Linked DNA regions of Homo sapiens: region 2 is linked to region 1. Evidence: fine-mapped expression QTL. Tissue or cell type: whole blood. Region 1 holds a variant in brackets; the other region holds the start of a gene. All regions are shown on one strand. Distances are from middle to middle.

Region 1 (2,500 bases):
AATTTTAGGTTTGTTCTTGTTTTTCTACTATCTTGAGTTGCATTGTTAGATTATTTACTTGAAATCTTTCTAGATTTTTGATGTGGGCGTTTATTGGTATTAATTTACCTCCTAGCATTGTTGTTGGGTTTCGGTATGTCCTGCCTCTATTTTCATTTGTTTCAAGAAATTTTTTTATTCCTTTAATTTATTCCCTGACCCAGTGGTCATTCAGGAGCATGTTGTTTAATTTTCATGCATTTGTACAATTTCCCAAGTTCCTCATTATTCATTTCCAGTTTTATTCCATCACGATCTGAGAATAGTTTGGCTGGTGGGGTTTATTTTTCTTTCAGCACATTCAATACATCATCCCATTTTCTCCTAGCCTGTAAGGTGGCTGCTGAGAAATTCACTGTTAGTCTGATAGGTGTTCCCCTTCTAAGTGACTTGATACTTTTCTCTTGCTGTTTTATTCTCTGACTTTTGACAGTTTGACTGTAATATGCCATGGATTTTTGAATTGCATCTATTTGGGGTTTTCTAAGCTTCCTGTGCCTGGGTGTCTAAATCTCTTGCTAGACTTGGGAAGTTTTCGGGTATTACTTAATCAAATAGGTTTTCTATCCCTTTTATTTTTGTTTTCTGAGACACCAAAAATTTGAATATTTGATGACTTTATGGTGTCACATATGTCACAGAGCTGTTGCTCATTCTTTCTTATTTTTGTCTGGGTTCAAAAGACCTAATTTTTGAAGTTCTGAAGTTCTGCTTGATGCAGTCTATTGTTGAAACTGTTGGATCTATTTTATATTTCATTCAATGAATTCATCAATTTCAGAATTTTTTTTTATATCTATGTCTTTGGGAATTTTCTCATTCATATCCTAAATGGTTTCTCTGATTTCTTTGTATTATTTTTCTGATTGCTGTTTTCTTGTATCTCACTGAGCTTTTTCAATTTTTTTTGAATCATTATTTTGAATTCTTTTTCTGAGATTTCACACATTTCTTCATTGGAATCTGTTGCTACAAAATTACTGTGTTCCTTTGGAAGTGTCATATTTCCTTCTTCATGTTTCTTGAATCCGT[A/G]TTTCGGTATCTGTACATCTGGTTTAACAGTCACTTCTTCCAATTTTTTGAATTTGCCTTCATAGGGGAGGATATTTTCCTTAAGATATATCTGTGGTGTTGGTCGGGTAGATCACTTTGGCTTTGATTCCAGATGCATGCAATAGTGTAGTCTCAGTATGATTTCTTTGGCTGTAAAGTTATCAGTTGTGTGTGATTTCCTCAGTGGCTTAAGTTGCAGTTTTTAATTGCTGCAATGAAGCATTTGCTGGAGATGGGAACATTAGGTGGGCCCATCCTCGAGCCCCAGGAGTGGCAGCAGCAGGCTGAGCATGCCTGTCCTTGGGCCCTGGGGCAGTGTATGCTGGCACTGATGTTAGAGGGTCCAGGTGGGCTGATTCTTGGGTCTCCAGGAAGCTTGCTTGGATGCCAGCAGTAGCACGGTGGGAAGGTCCTCGGGCTTGCTGCCCATAGACAGCAGGTGTGGTGCGGGCAGTGGCAGGACAACCCTCTGATTCCCAAGTGGTTTGCGCTGGTGGTGGTGGTGACCGTGATGGGCTGGGTGGCTAGTCCCCAGGCCCATAGGTGGTGCATGTGGGTGGTGGTAGCAGCAGGTTGGATGGTCCCTTCCTGAGGCCCCTGGGAGGAGTGCTCAGGTGTTAATGATAGGTGCACCCTCCAACGCCCGATGGTGTGCTTGGGCATAGGGGTAGGTGGAGCCGGGCTGGATAGGTCCCTCAGTGGTGTGTATAGGGCTTGGCTGTGGTAGGTAGGGGTGTTTTTGTGTGGCAGCAGTCATAAACAGGTGGGTTGGGAGCATGCACTTTGGCCCCAGATGGTATCTGCAGGACAGGGTAGCCTGTAATCAGGCTTGACAATGCACAGTGGCTCTGCTGGCTCACTGCCAGTAGCTTGTATACTTTGGCCCTGCGGCAGCACCCAGCTGTGGGTGGGGGACTTTAATGGGGCTTCAGAGATGTGGATATGCAGGGGCTGTTGGGCCTCAGGGAATGATGCAGTCTGCTGGGGGTGGGGCTCTCAAAATGGTGCCCTGCTGTAGCTGCTTAGGACTCGGGGGGATGAGCTCCCTCTCTGGAGCAGTGCCATCATGCAGTCCCCAAGTTCCCTGTTTGTGTGGGTTGAGGGTTTCTTCCATGGCTGGGATTGCAGGACTTCACAATGGGAATGCGGATGCTGACTGTTGGGGGTCACTTACCCTTCTCCAGCATGGGGGAGCCTCCCCAACCAATCCCTGCCAGGTACCCTGCCTTGCTTCCCTCTCCTTACTTGCCTCAGGTGTTTCCTGTCATTTTGGTGGTAAATTCCAGCATTCTCTCTTAGGTGATCTATTCAAAGTGTGATTTATCTACTACTGTTTTGGTGGTTCTTCAAGCAGAAAGCAAGTACCAGGGGCACTTTAGTCAGCCATCTTGAAACCACTCCATTGTTT
Region 2 (2,500 bases), 330 kb after region 1:
CCGTGGCTGGCTCCATATTGCCACAGCTTGAGAGTAGTCCTCACTTCCTAGCAGGTTCTTCAAGGGAAATCTAGAGCTCCCCAAGAGCTGTCACCCTTTCAGTGGTAATACCATGAATTATACAGCATTTTAACCCATGCATGCTCAACTCACACAAAAGCAGAAATATTGGTTACCATTTGGTAGACAAAAAATTAGCTTAATAAAAAATACTATAGCACACCCAAAGGGTTAATGAGGGAACTGGCCTCACGCCTTAATTTATTGCCAAAGAGTCTCTAGACCAGAGAAATAAGTATAAAAATTCTAATAATTCCTGATTCACTTTTGGTGTCTAGGTCAGATTTGTCTTAATTGTCTTTATCTATGCATTTTCTGCAGCAGGAAAGGCTGAGCTGACTAAGTTGCCACTATTCCTTTCCTGGAAGGTACTATTTGTTTTACGAACAAGAGAGTTTTGTTAACTCATTTTTACATTGTCCTTTTTGGCAATTTTCAAGTTACAAATTGGCAGCAATAAGCATTGGTGGTTCTGCTATCTTTTGCAAAATAATTATGAGAAGAAAAGATTTTTTTTTCTAAAATACAGACATATTTAAAATCCAAGAAAGAATGCTATTTAAAAAAAAAAAATAGAGACAGGGTCTCACTATGTCGCCCAGCCTGGACTCAAACTCCTGCGCTCAAGTGATCCTTCCACCTCAGCGTTCCTAGTAGCTGGGACTACAGGCATGTGCCATTGTGCCTGGCTAAACATTATAAGGCTTGGGGGAAAACATCTTCTTTCAGTATAGGAAGGTAATATTGCCAAAAGTTCATTGAAAGTCTGCTCCATTTTGCTTCATGGTCATAATGGAAATGAGAAGAATCAGTCTTACCTTCAGGAATTAGCAGGAGAGAAACGACAACTGAGAGAGAGGATGCCAGAAATCTATAGGAGTTCCTCATTGTGGCTGCTGTCCCACATCAATCAACCTGAAAATCTGTTTTCAGTTCTTAACTGCCTCTATCTATATACTGAGAGTAAAAAGGATGTGGTTTCCTTTCATTTTTTTTTTCAAGTTTCAAAGTTTAGCATTAGGAAACCAAATCCAAATAAGTGAGAATGGTGGATGATGGCTCACTGCCAGCAGGCAGGCTTTCCTTTGCTAGGACTGCTGAGGGGGGCGCTGGAATTCTACAGGGTAGGAGAGGGGCAAGGGACCTTGTTGCCATCAGAGTACACCAGGGAAGACTGTAAAGTGTCTCAGCTATGATTTTGAAGACGCTTTCATCATCTGCAATATTATCTGTAGTATCCATGACTGGAAACTCTCGAAGACTTAAATTAGAATTTTAATAAAAGTCCTCAAAATTGGTCACCAATCAAAATTCTTTCTAGCTGTCTCCTTGGGTTATATAAGAATTAGCAGGCCAAGTGCAAGCTGAGGACAGGAGGGAGATTTATTTACATAGAGGCTCCTGCCTGGATTTTCCTTCCCCACTTTGTGGTGAGTGTTTATTGTGCTCCTGCCTGGTCTGTGGCAGGTGTGGGAACATGGGCTGGAGGAGGGTAGGGGCTCTTGGCCCTTTTCAGCCCTCTGATTGTGCGTTCCTGATTGTCTAGTTTCACAACTTTAGATACTGAAAGTATCTCCGAGTTTCCCTCCCTCCCCGCCCCCCCCCGACCCCTGCTTCCTGCCTTTCTTCCTTACTTTCTTCTGAACAGGTTTAGGTGAGAAAAGAAGTGGGAGTCATTTTTGTTCCAATGTTGGGGAATGTCTCACTCTAAGAAGAGTCAACCTCAGTCCCTGGAGGAACAGTATGCAGTGTGCTTTCTATTTGAAATGAGTTCAGCTCTTTTTCTGAGCTGAGGATGTGGTCTCCGATACAATATACATGGTCAGATGTGCTGTCAGGATGTTGGGTACTGAACCAACCATCCCCATAGTTAACATCCTGATGACTTCAAACCTAGTGGTTACTTCTTTAGAAATCAAGTGACCTTAGAAGGGAGCCCTGCTGAGACCCCTGCATTTCTTTTTCTCAGATATTACAAGTGTATCAAAGGTTAATCATTTTCAGTAACAGCAGTGAGGACCCTGCTATTGGTTTTGGTGAGTAATTTTAGTGCAGACTTAAAAAAGTCAAATTGTAATTAACTACACCTACTGAAAAATTCTTAAAACATTGACAATTTTGTTTATTTTTATGTGAATGGTTGCTCTTCCATTTATGTTGACTTCTAACAACTTTATGAGACATAATTCACACACCATAAAGGTCACCCATTTAGAGTGTATGAGTCAATGGATTTTAGTATATTTGCATAGTTGTGCAGCCATTACCAGTACCATGCTGTTTTGGTTACTGTAGCCTTGTAGTATAGTTTGAAGTCAGGTAGCATGATGCTTCCAGCTTTGTTCTTTTGGCTTAGGATTGTCTTGGCAATGTGGGCTCTTGTTTGGTTCCATATGAACTTTAAAGTAGTTTTTTCCAATTCTGTGAAGAAAGTCATTGG

What was found. PIP is the estimated chance that this variant, and not a neighbour inherited with it, causes the effect.
Region 2: GZMA starts here. The variant in region 1 is fine-mapped to the expression of GZMA in whole blood (INTERVAL, PIP 0.92).

The regions. Positions count from the first base shown.
Region 1 is chr5:55,429,233-55,431,732 of GRCh38, reverse strand. The region is part of intron 4 of PLPP1 (phospholipid phosphatase 1); the gene reads left to right. Among named protein-coding and RNA genes, the nearest start is that of MIR5687, 78 kb to the left of the region's middle. The variant A/G (reference allele first, on the strand shown) is at 1,072.
Region 2 is chr5:55,101,131-55,103,630 of GRCh38, reverse strand. It overlaps GZMA (granzyme A), which reads right to left and starts at 985. Exons shown (of 5, transcript NM_006144.4): 1 at 879-985. The coding sequence starts at 948.